Regions from separate parts of the Homo sapiens genome. Here region 2 is linked to region 1. The links come from fine-mapping of genetic effects on gene expression. A gene starts in region 1. The other region holds a variant in brackets. All regions are shown on one strand. Distances are between the middles of the regions.

Region 1 (10,267 bases):
TTCGAAGCATCTTTAAGTTTCCCCACCAAGTCCTAAAAGACGTGTATACAATACCACGTTTTTAGGATAAAACATGGAAAGAAGTATCCAAGCTCAAGAAAGATGCAAGAAAAAAAATCAGGACACACCTTCCAAACAAGTTTAAAATTCAACAAGATTTTAACTTTTGACAAACTACTATCGGGCAAAAAAAGCGTTTCCTCGGAAATACCTCATGTTCAAATCGGTTATTTGCCCTCACACTGAAACATGATTTCTAACCGGATCCTTAACCGCCCAGATACATCTGAATTTTCTCAAGTTATCTAACAAAGGTTATGCTGTATACACATTTTCTGAAAGTTGAAAGTTTGATTCATAGTTACATTAAAACGACTCTGCAGAAGATGCCTTTGAAAAATTCAATTTCACTTAAATTTCCAGTAATGAGCTTCATTTTTTAAAAACTATGAAATAAATTCGTTGTCATATCCACTAATAAATGTAGTTTTGAATTTTCCCAGTCTTAAATGGGCAATATAAACAGTTTTAGAATGTTATGTATACTTCCCCCTTTATAAAGTCATTTAAAAAGTTTCAAAATCCAATTTTGACAGTTTAATTCAATTTCTGAAAGCAAAGACATTTTCAAAGCCATGCTCTTAATTTTGTTTATCTTATTGGACCAAACTCATCATGAATAGAAGAAATTTACACTAAACACTACAGAAGTTTATTTCAATCAGCAAGAACAGCAAATACAGACCAATTCTCTATTAATAACATCTTAATTTCAAGTGAAGCCTATCTTAAAATACTACTTTTGATGCCCCTTTCCCATTAAATCCTTAACCAATCTTCATTATCTGCTGACAAATGGTTAGATTAATTTTCTTTTGAACTTCCCAAGAGTATAACTCTCAAGTAAACATTTATAAAAAGACAGGAATATTTATAGATCCTAATACTGTACCTGTAATTGTTCCATGCTGCAACTAAAACTAATCTCTGGATAGGATGGGGAATCAGTGTTCTAGGGCAGGAAAAAAAACACGCAACAAGAAACGCTGTTTATTTAAATCAATGAAATTATAAATTTCATTATTGGATAAGACTTATCTATAAATACCTGTACACTTAAGGTCACCAAATATGCAGGTCTGTACATCCTATGAAGTTGATTGGTCTAAAATAACACAACAAACACGCAACAGCTTTTAACTCTAGGTTTTAAGAAGTTCCCTAAATCCCCCGCTAGAGAAGTTTCTTAAACTTTACCTTTATCTGATATTCCAAGCGCCAAGAAACATCCGTTATATGAGGGAGAGATCTGCCTATACTGAAAGATGCAATGATAACTTCGTACATAGTCTCCTCAGAAGAACTTTTCAGTTATTTATATTTACTAAGAATGGCTCTACTTTCCACCCCCAACTCCATTTTAATCCATTCTGAATTTAAACCATTGTTAAACTTTATTTTTAAATTATGAATGGTAAAGGAGCATTTCAAAATCATCTCAATAAACGATCTTTAAAAACATGAGCTTAACTTCAATTGCTTGACATGCCCTTTGGCTCCTTTTCTTTGGGTCAAGATCCCGAAGATCTTGTTTCACACCAACACTCTCCATTCATACCTGCAAGTGAAAAGTGCCTCAGCTTGACACCTTATACAGTACCTACCTTCCCAGTAGGATTTCTAGGGAATTCTTATTATTCTGGAGAGAAAAAAGAAAGCAAGAAAGAAAGAAAAAAAAACATCTTTACAAACAAAGTAAAAGAAAAATAGTACTGTTAATTAAAAATTTTAAAGTAAGTAACCTGATATTCCGTGCAAAACAGTTCTATTCGCTCTCTGTCAAATTTACAGTCTTCTAGATAAGTGCTAGAAGAAAGAAAAAAAAAGCCAAAGTTCTGTCTCCATTTTTAAAACTGAAATTGAAATCATTAAGGTAGTATTTGAAAATAAATGGATATTTAAATAAATCCTGTACCTTAGAGTTGACTTGTCAGCTCGGTGCTTTCCTGCCTCTAGTATGTAAGTTGCAGCTGCTGCATGACAATGTTTTAAAACCACTGGGTCGATATGTTTCAAGTCTGGATGATCTAAAATAAATTAACTTCCAGTGATGCCTATGATAATAAATTCTTTACAGTCATGTTCCAAAAAGGATATTTTAATTTGGGTTTAAAAACCCTTTAACAAGATTAAAAACATCAACTATAAGGACAGTCAATTATAAGTAAATGAGATGAGCAACAAGATCAAGTGAAAAACAATAAAAAGAACACAACAAGAACTCTACTATTACTAGCTTCAATTAACTTATTTTGCCTTAATATTTTTACTATTAAAAAATATTATAGCCCCCAAAGAAAATATAACAATGCAATGGTCATTCTAACACTGGAGTAAATTCAAAGGAAAAACAAGATAAATATTTTACATTGTGTCAATTTTAGAATAAACTTCCATCCTAAAAATGATGAGTTTAGGGTAACCGGCTCCATGAACAAATACATCAAGGGGGTAGAAGGTAGGGCATGAGTTCAGAATATAAGATACAAATTTCAAAATTATATTAGTACTTTCAGGGTTTGACAGTCATTTTTTTTTTGAGATTAACCCAGGTGGTGGTTACTATTTTCGTTTAAGAACTTCCACTTTCATACTTTTTGTACAAGTGTTTAGTTCATGAAACTACAGAAAAAAAACAAAAATTTGAATTGTTGGGATATTTATATTTAAGAAAATCATCTAAAAGCGATCGGTCTTAAAATATGTCTTCAATCCATACTGACACTGCACCTCCGCAGTCACTGACCGGATCGCTTAAAAGACACTCGCATCCTGGTAACTGGGGCGGAACAAAGTATTGTGCATCATAGTTTAAGGTTCTAGGCGTAGAACCTGTGTAAACATGCTGAACTAGAGCGCTGGAGTGATCATAGCAACTTGAGGTATGCTCTAAGTTGGCAAATGTCAACACTGTCTGACCTAGTAATTACTTCGGAAACAGACCCTTAAACCTTTGCTAGCCTAGCCCTGGAAGCTTGAATTGCAGGGAGCTCCCCAGATGAAGTCCAACTGTCAAAACAGCCGCAGCCTCAGACAAGGCTAAACACCTTAGATGTTTAGGCCACAAACAAGACTTGAACACCGGCTTTACAAAAGAACAAAGAGACTGGGAGGGAAACCGGGCCAGGAACGTGGAGTTGGCTCTATGCAGGTGCCAAGTGGGGCCAAAACAATGCTCAGAGTCTGCTCCGAGTCCTGGCAGAGCCACGTCCCCAACACTCCGTCCGGAGCGAAGGGCAAAGCCCGGAGACTTCCTCTTCCCGGGGCTTTCCCCTTCTCGCTCCGCCGGCTCCTCTTCTCCGAGCGCCCCTCCACCCCGGCGGATCCAGCTCCGAGCCGAGCCGAGCGGCTTACCTAACACGGCCTCGTCCGCCTGGGCGTCCAGCAGACTCTGGAATGCCGCCCGGAGGAGAAGCGTGAAGGCGTTGGAGTCGAAGGAGCGGGGATCCGCCAGCATCTGGAAGCCTTTCTGCACAGACTCCGAGAGCTCCATTGTGAGCGCGCCGTGACCTTCGACACGCACACCACGTGACACGCGCCGCGCGCTCAGCTGATGCGGCCGCGCGCGCACGCGGCTCGGGGCGGCTGGCGGCGGCGCGGGCTGCGGGGCCTCCCCGCCCGCCTCCGCGCCCGCGCGCGGGTCCCGCGCCCCCAGCCGCCGCCTACGGCCTCCCACCGTTTCCGTCCAGCTCTCGCTTGTCCAGCGCAGGCCGCGGGAGCTGCCGAGCCTTGGCGAGAAGGGCGGCCTCGGGCGTTTTGTGGACGCGCTCGGCGCTTTCTCCTTGGTTCGGCGCTTACCTCGGACGGCCACCAGCTCGGTTCCCTGAGAGACCCCGGGGAGACTGCGGACGGTGTCGGGATCCCGGCCCCCGCCTCCCGCAAACGGCGTCCTCCCCGCTCCTCGCTCTGCGCGAATCCTGCGGGAAGCTCCGATCTCAGGCAACTGGATTTTGCTTTTGTGGTTTTTTGTTTGTTTTGTTTGTTTTTTAGCTCACCAGCTTAACCTCGCAGCACTGCCCTTTTATGAGACTGTAAGACATCTAATTATGTGATTCTTGCTTATTTTTACTTTTTTTTTTTTGTCATTTCTGGAATACGGCAGTAGTGTCCTTCCTGCATGGGGGGTGTGTACACATGCACGCATACATAGAGTTCCTGTATGCACTGCACTCCAGCAATCGGATTAATAAATTATTCATGAACAGATTTGACAGGATTATTAACAATTTTATATGCCGCTGCAAATAAAGCCAACTGCCATACACATTTTGTGCTACTCACCACATCTATGGGTCCCGTTTTAGTTGCTCTATAGAATCTGCATAAATACGTTTTTATTAAACAGCTACCTTAGTAAAGTACAGTTAGGAATGGCAAGATCTTTATTAGAAGTGAGTTACTGTTTAGGATGCTCATACCTTTAAAGATTCAAATACTGTATAAAGTTTAACTTCCTCTCTATTTCTACGAAGTTGGTTTAGAGAACAAGAATGATTCTTTAAAAAACCCGTGAAGCAAAGTAGATTAGGTATTTTTAATCAAAAGCACTTGAAAAGTTAAAAAATGCAAGTTCTTGAAGGGTGGAGGGAAGGGATGCGGAACAACAAAGATGTTTTAGTCTTCAGGAGCGATTATTTGCAACATTAGACCCAAAGTGAAACATTATTTTCTTTTTCTAACTTAGATGTCTGTTTTAAAAATTTTTGATGGATACAGTTGACATTTACCTTGGCACCAATACATAAAGTGTACCTCATTTCACAACAGGATGCAAATGGAGTAAGCATCAGTAACAGATTGAGTAACTACTCAGCCCTCCTTTGAAAGCTTTAAAAGGCACGTGCAGTGGCTCCTCACTCGGTGAGAATATAGTAGCAGTGAAGGATTTAAAAGTCTCCCTAGAGTCTTTATGAAACAAGCACCTATTAATCATGTTCATCTTTTCTTCCCATCACTCATCTTCCTAATTTGTTTCTCATTAGTAGTAAAATGTCAGTTGAAAAACTTCATGATACCTGATTACATAGAGAATAGTCAGGACAGAGTTGTGTAAATGTTCAACAATATTAACAACACCCAAGCTTATTATGTTTATTACACATGTATTTTATGACCTAGTGTAACGTTGATTATTAATACTCTAATAGAATTTGAGTTGATAACTCTAATACTCAATTTAGTGTCAAAAAAGAGAGTATTAATCATGGACATAGATTTTAAAATATTATTTTAAAAGAAAAATAAACACAAGTGGTTGTCAATTTGTGGGCATGAAAGTTAGGAAATTCAGAAGGATTGTTTCCATAATAGCTGTCATATTACTTTGTTGCCCATGTATAAGTACTTTCTCTTAGAATGTTTCCTCCTCTTAGGCCTAAGTATATTCATGTGTTAGGCCTAAGTGATGGGCACATTTTAAGCTCACAAAAATTTTCACCATAATGTGTTCTAATGCTAGAAAAACGGAATTTTCCTACTACAGGTATATTTATTTAAACTTCCTTTGAAGGAGGCACAGGATCGAGTGTTTCAAACGTGTGTCTTTGACAAGTCATTGAAATACATGGAAGTATGATCATCAAAAGGCATGACTACCCAGATGTAGACTCTCTTGGTTACAGCCATAAAGATCAATGCATTTTATGTTAGAAAAACTACATATGAACATATTCTGAAAGTATGAAAATACTGTTTAAAATTTTGCTTTACTCAAAACAGCATTGGAACTTTGACTAAACTTTAAAAAATTCTGCATGCTCAAAGCCAGTAAACTAAATTTGGCTTCCCAAAAGCCTTTTAAAAGAACAATTATGTGCAGCTGAAAACAACAAAATACAGATGCAACCATCTTCACATTAACAATATATCTTGCCTCCTAAACTGCAAATATTAGGTAGACAATGCTGATAAATTTATTTTTCTTTTTGAGAATCTAGAAATCATTTGAAGAACTAGAAGTTACCTTTTTAAACAATGTTTTAGAGTTTCAAGTACATTTGATATCCTTTGAACTGGTTAATATTTTTAGAAACAAATTTAATATTGGTCCCTTTATTGTGATTACAATTAAATAGGCTAGGGCTTTTACCGGATCTATGTGGTCAGCTTTTCCCACAGGCCTCATTGCTGCATTTGTTAGTGTTATGAATTACAATATTTTCTTTTTCAGATTGTATAAGTACTTTTGCTTTTGTGCAAATAACGCTGAAGGAAGATATTCCTTTAGATTGAAGAGCTCATGGAACTCCATGGGGAGAAAAAATAATAAGTTTAAGTGCCATCGAGACAAAGACTAGTTTTAACTGGCTTATATATTTATTATATATTCTAGTGGGGATCTGTTTTATCCCTGCCTGCTCATATGCTACAGAGAAGAAAGTTTAGAACACTTTAGAAACTACCTCTAAATAAGAAACCATTCTCTCTGTGTTCCCTAACACCGATGCTTTGATGGTTACTTTAAACTCTGAGATATTTGTTAATGAAAATAGTCTTTACTGTTTTAAAGCTATTTTAACCACAAATGGACAGTTGGAAGGAGTATTTAACTGAGTTATATATGACACTTGAGAGTATAAGTCAAAAACTGTTTCAGTGAAGTTTATAAAACCTGTCTATATTCTTTTATTAAATAACTTGGCAAGGCATAGTTTGTGACTTGGAATTTGAATGGTCAAGTTTTTGCACATTCATGATCACAGAGTTCAGTGGTCTCAAATTGCATCTTATATCACACTGTGAGACACCAAACTGAGTATTCAGAGGGGACAGTAAAGCTTTTATTTTCAATTTAAACATGTAATCCAATCCCTAATTATTTCTAAACAGTCATTGCTGCAATAATTGATATGGACAAATATAACCTTTTCTCACATTGTATAGTTTAATTTGCATATGTGGATTTAAAAATGTGTGAGGGAAATGAAATACAAATTACATTAAATAAACTGTAACCACAGGGTTTAAAATTAATGATACAGTGTTCTCTAAAACAGATAACTTACGCTTATGATTTGGCACAAGTGTTTTGTATTTTTCCCCTAAAACTTTTTTGAATAAATTTATATTAAATGGTAAATAGTACAATTTCTATTTAATATTGTCATCATTTAGTACCATTTTATGTTATTTATTTATTTATCTATTTATTTTAGTAGAGATGGGGGTTTTTCCATGTTGGCCAGGCTGCTCCCGAACTCCTGACCTCAGATGATCCGCCCACCTTGGCCTCCCAAAGTGCTGGGATTACAGGCGTGAGCCACTGCACCCGGCCGGTACCATTTTAAATATTTCATTTTCGTAAGTTTTATCTGGGAAATATAAAACATAAAACTTCAAAATATAAGAAAAATTAAATATTTTAAATCTAAGTTTTAAAAAGTCAAATTATCATGCTACTGAGAAATTGAGTTTATTATATAAGATCTCACAACATTTCCTGAAATTAGAAAACCGTAATTTTTTCTTTTTTTTTTTTTTTTTTTTTTTTGAGACAGAGTCTCACTCTGTCGCTTGGGTGCAGCAGCATGATCTCAGCTCACGCAACCTTCATCTCTTGGGTTCAAGCAATTCTCATGCCTCAGCCTCTCAAGTAGCTGGGATTACAGGTGTATGCAACCACACCCAGCTAATTTTTGTATTTTCAGTAGAGACAGGATTTTGCCATGTTGACCAGGCTGGTCTCAAACTCCTGACCTCAAGTAATCTGCACACCTTGGCCTAGAAAACCATAATTTTGTTAAACTTTGCAAATAAGAAACTCTGTAGTCAAAATCTTGGCAAGAAAATACTATTTAATTTCTAAAGTGAAATTTGGGAGCTGTCATCAGTGTTGTCATGCCATGATTTTGTTAGCTACTTGAGTGAGTATAAGATAATGGCAAAATTAAAGGAGCAGACCTAAGAATGAAATTATAACTTTAAATATCAAATCTTTGTATCTAACCAGTCCACAGTTTTAAAAGGATTTCGTGGATATTAGAAAAGTCATGTCTACTCTTTAGGACTTCAGCGTAGCATGTTGAAACGTATTTTAGGAAGTTTGATCCCTTATTTTTAAGCAAAGCAGTTAATGTCACATGGGGAATATCTGAGTTGTAAAGACCAAAATTGTGAAGTCTTCATCTAAGAAGAAATGAGAAATCGATTTGTAAAAAAGAAATGAAAATAAACAAATGTAATTTGGCAAAAGATGAAGGCAAATTTTAAGTTAAAGGAAGGAAGTTAGGAAGAAATGAAAGAAAGCAGTCATACTCCATGTAACATTTAATGAGAAAAGAACAGGTTGCATTATGTGTCTTAGAATTTCTCTGCACAGACAAATAAAAAATAATTTTCCTTTAAATTCCGTAAGTGATTTAAATGATTCACTTATCTTTTGTATGGATTATAAAAAGCAAGTTCAATTCTTAAATCACATAATTTCTATCTTCACCAGTTAATTTATATGAAAATTAGGAACTGGCCAATCACCTAATAAATTCCATCAAATAGACCATTTAGATAATAAGCACAGTTACCTCCTCAACAGCAGGTTGATTTTTTTTTCTGTACTAAAATTATAAACGTCACCACTTCAGTTTCCTATATCATTGATCTGGTATCAGCCAGGATGGCCCATGGCTTAGCTGTAGGAGGGTAAAGTGAAGAAGAGACATGAAACAAGTTTACATTGATGACTGTATCTAATTCTTCCATGTGTACACAGACAGTCCTTTAAATTGTTTTATATCTTTAAAAAGAGGGAGGGAAGGAGGGAAGAAGAGAGAGAAAGGGGGGAAAGAGGAAGAGGAAGGAAGAGAGAAAGGACCTGAGAAGTGTCACAGAAAGCTTATTTAGTGTTTATTTTCTGTGACACAATCCAAGATTCTTTTAGCTACAATGAATTCAACTAAGCTTCATTAGTAAGGCTTGGAAAAGACTGAAAGATCATCTGTTTTGTCCAGAATCTAATCAGTTTCAAGATGTCCTACATTTAGACTACAACAGCAGAGAATGTCTAACAGAGTCTCTTCGTTTTTTAGGTCTGGATTTGGAATCTCTGTGTTTTTTCATACCTTAGAAATTGGAGTTTGGGTTGGTTTCACGAATTCCAGCAAAAAATGGAACAAATGGGCCTATGCTGTGGGATATTATTGTTGAAAGCCAGTAACTTTTTCAAGTTTGTATTTTGAGAACATGCTTTTTACATGTTAAAATGTGTACAAATAAGTATATTTTGTTTAAGGAACTATAATTTTACAAACAAAAATGAAAACAAAAATAAAGGTTTTTGTAGATTAAAACCAAAGTAACAGTATAATTGCTTATAAACTGAAAAATGTAACTATATTCACTTGTCAAATGAAGCATTTTAGAATGGAAGTTAGTATATAAGAAGGGATGATTTGCATTAAATACATTATAAACAGTTAAGGAGACTTTACAGCTAAAGTACTTTTAACTCATTTAAAGTAAGCATTTAAACCAAAATTAATATTTCAAAAGAGCTTACATGGCAATGAAAGCCTAGATAAGTGTTTTAATATTTTTAATTGTGTACAATATTTAAAATGATACTGGTTAAGAATTTAACATTTTGGGCCGGGCGCGGTGGCTCACGCTTGTAATCCCAGCACTTTGGGAGGCCGAGGTGGGTGGATCATGAGGTCAGGAGATCGAGGCCATCCTGGCCAACATGGTGAAACGCTGTCTCTACCAAAAATACAAAAATTAGCCAGGCGTGGTGGCATGCATCTGTAATCCAGCTACTAGGGAGGCTGAGGCAGGAGAATTGCTTGAACCTGGGAGTCGGAGGTTGAGTGAGCCAAGATCGTGCCATTGCACTCCAGCCTGGCAACAGAGTGAGACTCTGTCTCAAAAAAAAAGAATTTAACTTTTCTATTATGGTTGTTATATTCAACAGAATACTGATTTTATCCCCCTTTTCAAATTAAATATAGACTTGAAGCCATTTTATGGATAAGTCAGTCTAAAAACTACATTTTTAAAAATCCTAGTAGAATAATTGTGTTCAGCTTTTTCACATTTGTTACATAGCTAGAACTATTCAGAAAATACTTTGAATTGTTTATACGTAGCTGATTTTTACACCGTGGTGAATGTTTAGAAAGTAGTTTTACAGAGTTTTGAGAAAACAAGCACCTAAAAAAATAGATTAAACTTTTCCACTGTGTTTCTTCCCATATACTCAGTTTTTCCCTGAACT
Region 2 (10,545 bases), 270 kb before region 1:
AGCTAAGGAGTTCCTACATTATTTGCTTTTACGTTTCCAGCCCTTTATAAACCCATATGTTGCGCTGGGCATGGTGGCTCATGCCTGTAATCCCAGCACTTTGGGAGGCCAAGGCAGGCAGATAGATCACTTGAGGCCAGGAGTTCGAGATCACCCTGGCCAGAATGGCAAAACCCTGTCTCTATTAAAAATAAAAAAATTAGCTGGGCATGGTGGCACATGCCTATAATCCCAGCTACTCAGGAGGCAGAGGCACGAGAATCACTTGAGTCCAGGAGATCAAGGCTGCAGTGAGCCAAGATCGCACCACTGTACTCCAGCCTGGGCAACACAGTGAGAACCTGTCTCAAAAAATAAAAATAAAAAACCCTGTACATTGTCCTGGTACTGGTACATAGTATTATTAAACCCTTCTTTAATTAGTAAAGTAAATGCCATGAATTATTATTCTGAACTATAAAGTTTCCCATTTTAATCGAACTAGAGGTGTAGAGAATATAATGGGAAAGGCATGAGTGCCGGTAAGTCTGTAATTATAATGTACTTAATACGCTAGACTTTACGTGCTGCATGCCAGTAAAACACAGGGTAAACACCATTCTGTAGACCTTGGTTCTCATGTGTGGTCTGCAGACCCACTCCAGCAGCAGCATCTACTTCTGAAAATGCCCCACCCCTGACCTGCTGGATCAGAATCTGCATTTTCACATGATCCCTGGGTGATTCAGTTGCTTGTTAAGTTTGAGATGCACTGACTATGCAGCTTTTGATTCACCCTATTGGCCCATGAGAGGACGTTATACTGTCCTATCTAATGTGCATAAGAAAACGATCTATGAAACTGAGGCTGCTGGAATTCTATCCTGTGCTGAATACAGTTCTCCTTTACTATTCCCCATCCCCCAAAAGTTGTTTTACACGTATTGTCAGTTTGACAGAGTTTAAGGTCTGTTCCACTTGGTCTGCTCCACCTGGCTTTCATAAACTTGATTGTTCCCACTTTGATTTTATGCCCAAAGATAATCTGCAATCTTACAGTTCCTAGAGTTCTTGTTTTATTTGAAAGAAATACCCTTTTGCAAATTAGTGATTGCAAGAAAAAAGTAAGACCACTAACAAAGAGCAATAATTGCTTTTTGGGGGCTAGCATTTAAAACCCCACAAGGGGAAATTCACTTTGATTTTCTTCCTTTTTGTTCTAAGTGGGAAGTAGTATAAAGGAGATCTTGTTCATGTTTTAGGAAAGAAAAATGTAATTAAGAATTAAACTCTTGTTAATGTAGGCATTTTCATCCTGAAAGTCATTTTTATCATTCTCAGTCTATCTAATAAATTTTAGTTGTCTTAAGAATAACTGAACACTGCCAAGTCTTGCTATTTAAAGTCATTGGGGATTATGTAGATTTTTTTTTTTCCTTCTCTCAAGTTTTCTAATAAGCTAAGGAAAGCAAATTCAGTTACTTGGTGGCCTGGACTCTGCATCTGGCAGGTGCGCCTGCTTGCCTTCAGATCAAGGTGTGCTATTGCAGAACGTGTGATCCACCACAGGGGGTGCCAGGGTGGTGAGGTGAGAATCCTGGAAGATGAAGATTTGCTCATGGGCCACTTTTCTCTTCAGGCATAGGTAGGGCCTGCGTAAACCCCTGCACTGCTGCAATGGATTCTACCTCAGGTGGTTCAGTCCTGTTGATTTCATCTAGAAAGGAAGGAAAGGATAAAGAGACTGGAATATACTAGACAGAAAGGCACTCTTTCTTTTGCAAATTCATGGGCAGAGCTATCTATCACCTGCCCCTCTGAAGGTATCTGTGTTCCCTTAACTTGACAGCATTTGGCCACTGAGGCCTTTGAATGCCCACTTCAGAGAGCAAGTTAAAGAGAGAAAGCATGTTTGCCTTTGAATCCCACACAGGCCATCCCGCAGGGCCAGGCAAGGAGTGAAAGTCACTGCTCAGGAGCAGTCGGCAAGGATGGAGACGAGACTTTCTGGGGGCCAGGGGTTTGCTAGACCCCATGGCTGGACGGCCATTGTCAAGAGGTTGGGGCAAGGAGGAGGCTTCTTGGAGGATGTAAGAAAGAGGAGATCTGAACGGAAGAGTCACATGGGAGGAGAAGGGTAGACCTACCTAGCCAGTGTCACTAGCATGAACCAGATCTTGGAGTGAATGATGTCAGCAGAGCCCCTACTCAGAGCCCGTCCTTGTCCACCCTCCAGGAGATCAGTAGTTCTCAAAAATGGTGGTAGGGAGTGGAGGATGGACCAAATTCAAATCGCCTAAGGAGGAGCTGTTTTAGAAGACACTCTCCCAGGCTCCTGCCTCCTCCTCCTGGGGCACACAGGTAGCATAGTCTGCAAGTTAAGTACTTTACTAGTTGAGTAGTTTACTAGTTGAGAGTTTGGATTCTGAGCCAGCCACACTGGAGTCAGAATTCTAGCTCTTCCCTTATTAGCTATATGCCCTTTGCCCAGATACTAAGCCTCTCTTATTCCCATCTCCTCATCTGTAAAATAGTGATGATAGCAATCGTAACCATTGCATGGGAATGTTATCAGAATTGGGGGAAATAATCTGTGCAAAATGCTTGGCACGATACCTGTCATATAAGGAAATGCTCAGTGACTGTAAAATTTTCTTTTATGACTGGAACCTAATTTTATTCAGAAGAAAACTTTGAGAGCTTGTCCAACTCTGAAAAGAACTAAGTGATTAAAGTTACTTTGATTATAATTCTAGACATTAGCCTGCTTTAAAGATATTAGAATCATAGTACAATTCAAGCTGTTTTCATTTCATCTGAAAGGCTTGCAATGTGAGTTATGATGCATGTAAAAATGTTGTCATCCTACTTATCAATTTATCCCACACACAAATGTTTTTGAAAACTTGCAATGATGACAAATTATCTGGGAATCGGAAAGCCACACCTTTAACTAGTTATCTTCCCCCGCCTTCCTTCCCCTCTTACCCCACCCGGGAAGAATTCCCTGACCAGGAGCGCACCCCTCCCCAACGACTCCCAGGCCCGCAGTGGAGCTCGTTTTCACACTTCCTACGACAAAAGATACATCATCAAGACTATTACCAGTGAAGACGTGGCCGAAATGCACAACATCCTGAAGAAATACCACCAGGTAATTTTTCTTGATCTTTATTTGAAACTCCAAGAAGATTAACATGCGTAGCGATTTCTCACCAAGGCCAGAGATTTAAATATATAGTTAGAGAACAAGAAGAACACATTTCACATAAACATCTCCTCTAACCCTGTGTTCTAAAATTACAGTGGCCAGATTCCTGGCAGTTAACCTTTAGGCATGCTTGTGCTATAAAGGTCATTCATTATTTGTATAACACTTTTAACCTAAATACTCTTGTGTAATAGTTTCAGTTATCACTACTCTGATTTTAAAATCATTCAGCTTAAGATTTGGCAACTTTGCAGAAGTTTTTGCCTGTGCCAGAGATTAGGTGTTGACCTCTGAGTATGTATCTATTTACACCTCCGAATCCTATTTTGCTGTCACTGGTTCTTCTGTCCTGGCCCCAGCAGGGCCCACGCCATTCACAATCTGCTACGGAGCAAGCTCTCTGATTTTAGAAGGTGGGTGTTGGTCTGCTTCTTGCCCCCTTTTCATCCCCGAGCATAATTCCATTGTAATCACTGGAGGTAAAGTAGACCATCCTTGGGAGCAGCAATCTGTCTCTCCTGGAGTAAATTCCAGCACAAGCTTCTCTGGTAGAGCACATGTTCCCAAGGCCCAGCCCGCGCTGTGAGAGGCCTCCTTCACCATGGAGTATAAGAGCATGAAGTCCAGCGTTGGACAATCCTGGGCTCAAATCCCAGCCAGGTCGCTTACTAAGCATGTGACTTCTGGTCTTGGTTGTTTTTTAGAGACAGGGTCTTGCTCTGTTGCCAGGTTGAAGTGCAGTGGCGTGATCACAGCTCACTGCATGCTCAACCTCCTGGGCTCAAGCAGTCCTCCCACCCCAGCCTCCCAAGTAGCTGGGACCACAGGTATGCACCACCATGCCTGGCCAATTTTTTTAAGTTGTGTTTTTATAGAGGTGGAGTTTTGCTATGTTGCCCAGGCTGGTCTTGAACTCTTGGGCTCAAGCAGTTCTCCCATCTTGGCCTCCCAAAGTGCTAAGGTTACAGGTGTGAGCCTCCACACCCTGCCTGGATTTTGAAGCCACAGTTTCTTTGTTTATACAGTCGGGATAATAATAACACCTAATATGGATTCTAAAGATTAAATAGGAAATTGCATGTCAAGTGCTTAGCACAGTGTCTGTCACACACTAGATACTCAATGTGTGGTGGTGGCCATAGCATCGCTATTATCAAGATAACATCCATGGTATAAAAATAACGTAACAACTAAGTCACTTGGAGAAATTGTAGTCATATGGTATGAACATGTCTGCTGTTGCAACATCCCAGGAATCATCTTCACAACTGGTGTTTAAAACACATACACACATTGTTGCTTTTAGGACCTTAGTCAGCTTGAGCTGTCATAAAAAACCGTAGACTGGGTAGCTTAAATGACAGAAATCTATTTCTTACAGTTCTAGAGGTTGAAGTCTGAGATCAAGGTGCCAGTATGGTCAGGTTCTTCCTGGTTTGCAGACAGCCAGCTTCTCACTGTAGCCTCACGTGTGTTGGCAGGGTCATGGTGGGTGGGATAGGATCAAAAGCACTCTTCTGTCACTTCTAATAAGGGCACTGATCACATAATGAGGGCTCTAAGCTCATGACCTAATTAGCTCTCAAAGGTCCCACCTCCTAATACCATCACTTGGGGATTAGGGTTTCAACGTAAGCATTTTGGGGGACACAAACTTTCCATTCATAGCAGAGTCACACGGTGTTTTTAACTTAAATAGCTCCCAATCCCCCAAAGGTAAAAATTGGCTGTCACAATGGGTATTCAAAATAAAGTGCCGCAGGTCCTGAATATATTAATAAAAGGATTCTCGAGTATAAACAATCACACTTACTAAGTATCTGCTTCGAAGGCAGCACTGGCCTGGACTTGTGAGCTCCTAGATGTCTGTTTAAACATCCCTTTAAAAGCATTACTTTATGTTCATGCATGATGCTCTAATATCATGGATTCTTTCTTGGCAGTTGCTTATTCTTCCAATCTTTGCAAATATGATCAATTGCATTTTGCTTGCAGTGAAGTCTATAAAAATCTTTGAGCTATATTCTGTTTCTTGAAACTTGGTACTGCCTCTAGTTTGTTTTCTAAAATCATTAGCCTCTAAATTCATTTAATATCTAATAAATCTTTTATAATATCTATTCCTTTTGAAATTTGTTCTACACTGCTTATGCTACTGCCTCTTATTCTACAGGAAATTTTAAAGTGCCAGGATGCTACCTGTGAGGGGGAAGACATGAGGCTCTGTTATCTGAATGAATTGAATTACAGGTTGCAGCTTTGAACTCTTCACCTTTTAAACTGTCTACTTTTTCATTTTTTCCCCTCTGGAAATTGATATCATACTTATGCATTCTCTTTATACTTTCTTTCAGTTGTCTCAGAACATTCAAAGCGAAGTGATATCTCATGACTGATGAGAGCATATTGTTCTAAAAAATGGCCATGATACCATGCTAATAAAATGTGACACAGAATTGAAGTACCAACTTCTTGATGACAACTTTGAGTT[T/A]AGCATCCTTTGACTTTACAAAAATCACGATTTGAAATGTTTTCTCTGGGTTAGTTATTGTAACCTAACATAGGGATTTGACATATCCCCAGTGTTACATAAAATAAGTGTGGGATCAAAATAAGTCTATTGACACCTCCCAGGGGCTTTAACAGTATAAAGACTTCCTTCTGTTCCACTGCTACAAAATTGTTATCTTATTGGTGAGTTCTTTATTCAGAAAAGTCTCCTTTATCCAACATCTATACTTTTTCTTTTTATAAACAGAATATTTTAAATATAATTTGTAGGGTCTTAATGATTGGGAATCACATTATTAATATAAATTATTTAAAGGGCACTAAGTAGAAGTCAGGAGACATAGATCCTAACCTGTTAGGAACTGCCTCTTGGATGATCTCTGAACTCAGCTTCTGCACCTGCATTTCATTCATTCATTCATTTATTCATGTATTCACTCTTGACCTTATTCCAGAAAGGATTTAAGGTGGCCTTCAAAGAAGTTGGAAATACAAGCTAGAATAAATGAAAAAAAGAAAAGGAAGAGGCAGAAAGATAAAGGCACAAAATGGAGCCTGGAATGAGCGTAGATATTCATGCCAAGATGACCAGCATGCTTGATACTTTGAGTCTGTTGCCAAGGAGAAATGTAAGTGGTCTTGGTACTAAGATGCAACAGGGTTGACTCTAAGGAGTTCCCCACAGAGCGGACACAGGGACATCTGACCTGATAAAACAACATCCTTGCCACAAGCTGAGAAACATACAAGAATGTTAGAGAACTTAAAAAAAAATTGTCCGTATAGGCTGCTAATTATCAGTATAGGCCATGTATAAATACAGCCACAGTTGCAGCACCGTTTTGCTAATTTGTCCATTTTTAAATTACATTTAAACGAAAGCAAATTAAGAACAAGGAAATGTATAGGTGACACAAACGTTGACCATTAAAGGTGGACATGCCACTCATATACATCTCAGCAAAATCTCACATAGAAGAGGTTTTTAAAAATACAGCAGCAGTGAAGAGTAACAGTGTTAATTACATGATCAGAGAATTCCACAGAAACCTCATAAAAGGTCTCAACATTCACACAGCTTATTTGATACTGATCTATTCGGGGTGACCCCTGCTAGGCTCACTGAGGGCAGGTCTGGGACCCTGCTCAGGTTGGCAGGTGTTCATGAAGGAAGATGCAGTCCGCCGAGTCAAACATCACACCCGCAGCAATTAGCAAAGGCCACACCAGTGTGTAGTTTACATTTAGTAAATGCTGTTCTACAGAGAAAGGCTATAATGCACACCGGCTGCCTAGCCCTCTCCCATTCTGGCTTCTGTTTGAATGTTCTTCAGGCTGTTCTTCTTGTATGCCACTTCCAGACGAGATTTTGATGAATATTACTGGGTGGTGGGCTCAGCCTGGCATGTCCTCATGTGATTCTGTGTGACCGGACACAGGCCTGTCATTGGTAAACCCAGGGAGGCCTGTCAAGCTTTGTGTTTCTATCCCTGTGGTTTGAGATGCTCAGAGGTATTTGAGGTATATGTCAGGCCTTCATTCCTACTTTCTGTGGGCCTAGAGTACTTTTAGGGTTTGTATCTAAGAAACTTTCTCTCTCTAGCTTCAGTAGTGATCATCATTTCTTCTGTTTCTTCTTGCTTGTTGTTGCTTTTGCCTTGGAACTCTCTGGGCTTCTGAACCTTCCGAATCTAGACAAGTAATGCAGATCGTTCAGGTGCATATCAGTTGATGAGAGGCTCTCATAGAGGGTTTCTCCCGTGGAGTGAATTGCATGGACTTTCTGACAACTTTGGTTACCCAACAGCCCTTTTTTTTTTCTTTTCCTTTGTTGTTTTTTGTTTTAAGGAAATGCAGCCACAGTTGGAATTATATTCTGGAGGGTTAAAATTGCCCAAGGCCAGCCTCTGGAGAAGTAGAACATGGCTAGTTATTTGAATATTTGAATAAATTCTTCCTAGGTTTAATTTTCTGACACACTGACCTTCCCAGCAATCTGGGATGGCAGGTGGTTCAAGAGCAAGGACTTGGAGCCAGCCAGCCACCTTCTGGTCCCAGCCATGCCCCTGGCCAATGGCATGACCTTGGGCAATTTACTTATACTTTTGACACCTCTTGGTCTATAATATTTGGATAATAGTACCCTCTTCATTTGGGTGTTGTGCTAATTAGGTGAATTCATATTATAACATGCTCAGAGCAGTGTCTAGTATATAAGAAGTGCTAAATGGGCCAGGCGCAGTGGCTCACGTCTGTAATCCCAGCACTTTGGGAGGCCGAGGTGGGTGGATCACCTGAGGTCAGGGGTTCAAGACCAGCCTGACCAACATGGTGAAACCTCATCTCTACTAAAAATACAAAAATTAGCCAGGCATGATGGCACGTGCCTGTAGTCCCAGCTACTCGGGAGGCTGAGGCATGAGAATCGCTTGAACCCAGGAGGTGGAGGTTGCAGTGAGCCGAGGTTGTGCCACTGCACTCCAGCCTGGGTAACAGAACGAGACTCCGTTTCGAAAAAAAGAAAAAGAAGTGCTAAATGAGTGACTGAATAAGATTTTTAATTAAATATCGTTCTTGTATTTAATTTCCTACACCTCAGTGTTGAAATCATTCTCATGTGGCATTCAGTCCTTAACTCTTTTAATCCACTAGGGGGCCTGGTTTCTGGTAGACTGTGGCACTGATGCAGAATTACGAAGACTTCAGCCGTGAGGAGTTAGATTTTTCCCCCAAGTTCCAGTATCTTGCTCTATTCTTTATTTCCTGCCCAAATTCTACCCTAGCTTTCACTCTGTGCAAAGAAAGAAGAGCATCATCTCTCAGACCAATGGAGAATTCATATTAAGCACAGCAAACTTTCATAAATTTTGTTTACTTCATTTGATTTTCTCTTGTAGTTGGGAAAATAATGTTTCGCTATAAATATCCTTTTCACATTTCTGTTAGGCTGTAAGAAACTCGGATCCTATAAATGATGATTATCAGTTGATTAACTAAACAATGTTAGAACATTCAAAAAGGAAAAAATGGTAAAAAACCTATTTGCCTACTTGAATATCTTTTTATCTTAAATCGACTGAATTTTTTTTTTCCCCGCACTGACGTGAATTCATTGGGAGCTTTGGTATCATGTAGCTTCAACTTGAATTAAAATTGAAAAGTATTGACTGGACACAGTGGCTCATGCCTGTAACCCCAGTGCTTTGGGAGGCCGAGGTGGACGGATCACTTGAGGCCAGGAGTTCAAGACCAGCCTAGCCAACACAGTGAAATCCGGTCTCTACTAAAACTACAAAAAATTAGCTGGGGGTGTATGCCTGTAGTCCCAGCTGCTCAGGAGGCTAAGGCATGAGAATCCCTTGAACTCAGGAGGCAGAAGTTGCAGGGAGCCAAGATGGCATCACTGCACTCCAGCCTGGGTGAGATTCTGTCTCAAAAAAAAAAAAAAAAATTGAGAGGCACTGTTGGTAACATACTTCCCTGAAGTTGTATAGGACTTAGAATGTAACCCGAGGGAAGCTGCAATATAGGTGATCAAGAAATACCTTATGAAAATATTATTGAGTATTTTAATAGCTTTTGAAATGCAGCATTTTAATTTACTTTCTTATTTCAAAGTGACTGAATCGATAAATGGGTAAAATTGATAAAAAACGACTTAAATTCCTTTCTTATCCTTTTATTTAGGGAAACAATTAATATCTTTAGTTGAATCCAGAAGTTTTGCCCCAAAATCTGAACTCCCTGTTAAATAAGCTAATCAGCACCTCAAATTTCAAGGATTTTAGGGCAAACATGTGACTTCTTTGAAATCTCCTCATAGTACATCTGCTTATCCTTTCCCGAAGGTTAGGGACGTTGGTGTTACTATTCAAAGGATGAGACTTCGGTAGAGCAAAACTGAGAAAATAGGGACCATAAAAGCTAAATACAAAAAAGAGTGGAGAGGGTTATAGCACCAAAAGAGAAAAGGTTCCACATTGTGTCAGTGCTTCTTAGACTTTCATCAGGGCTCTGACTGGCTGGGTCTGGAGGGGCTGTCGGGGAGTCTGTGGAGGCCGCCTTTCTACCAGGCCCCCAGGTGATGCTCATGTGCCCCCGGTGAGTGACAGGGCAGCTCCTGTGTTCTGGAACAACAGAACATTCTGAGCACTCAGTTCTGAATCTGCTCTTGGGCCCTTTTGTTCATTTTTCCGGAGGAGTGATCAATTAAAATTTGGAAAGTACTTGGATATTCTCAGTCCTGTGTAAGTATCAGATTATGAGACTAAACACAAGCTCCCAGTAGACCCTCTGCTGCCATTGTAAACTGCGGACACGTCTTGCTTCTCTCTTAGAAACAGGGGAAGGTATTTGTCATCTTGGGAGTTCCTGTGGCCCAATGAGTGCCCCGAAGCTTGCCGATGGCGTCATTTGTAGCCCTCTGTTCCCAATGTCCTCAGCCATTTCCTCCTAGTTTCATGGGGAGCTGCCCGGCACACTCCCCAGCAAGCTTTTCCTGCAGTACTTCTTCTCCAGGGTCTGGAAGTTCCGCAGTCCTTTTCTCTTTCAGCCTCACCTCTCCCCTTCTGTTTCTCCAGCAAGTACATCTTTAACGTGCTCATCCTGGCTTCCCCATCTTTAACTTTTCTTTTCCATTTTCCATCTCCAAACATCTCTGCCCAATTCTGGGTGAATTCTTCAAAATATATCATCCAGTCCTAAGTGTCTCTTCAACTGTTCTAATCTTTTTTTTTTTTAATTTCAACAATTATCTTTTTTATTCTAGAAGTTTTCCAGAAGATTTTTCAAAATCTGACCGTTCATTCCTGATAGTTTCTTGATTTATGCTCATCTCTGAAATT

What was found. PIP is the estimated chance that this variant, and not a neighbour inherited with it, causes the effect.
Region 2: its variant is fine-mapped to the expression of COMMD3 in whole blood (TOPMed, PIP 0.93).

The regions. Positions count from the first base shown.
Region 1 is chr10:22,309,704-22,319,970 of GRCh38, reverse strand. COMMD3 (COMM domain containing 3) reads right to left here and starts at 3,583. Exons shown (of 8, transcript NM_012071.4): 1 at 3,415-3,583; 2 at 1,976-2,087; 3 at 1,803-1,866; 4 at 1,665-1,699; 5 at 1,258-1,318; 6 at 1,109-1,165; 7 at 953-1,012; 8 at 1-32. The coding sequence starts at 3,553. COMMD3-BMI1 (COMMD3-BMI1 readthrough) reads right to left here and starts at 3,583. Exons shown (of 14, transcript NM_001204062.2): 1 at 3,415-3,583; 2 at 1,976-2,087; 3 at 1,803-1,866; 4 at 1,665-1,699; 5 at 953-1,012. The coding sequence starts at 3,553. RefSeq lists an enhancer at 3,036-3,335 and a silencer at 3,606-3,725.
Region 2 is chr10:22,584,217-22,594,761 of GRCh38, reverse strand. It overlaps PIP4K2A (phosphatidylinositol-5-phosphate 4-kinase type 2 alpha), which reads left to right. Exons shown (of 10, transcript NM_005028.5): 4 at 2,981-3,133. Among named protein-coding and RNA genes, the nearest start is that of PIP4K2A, 130 kb to the left of the region's middle. The variant T/A (reference allele first, on the strand shown) is at 5,682.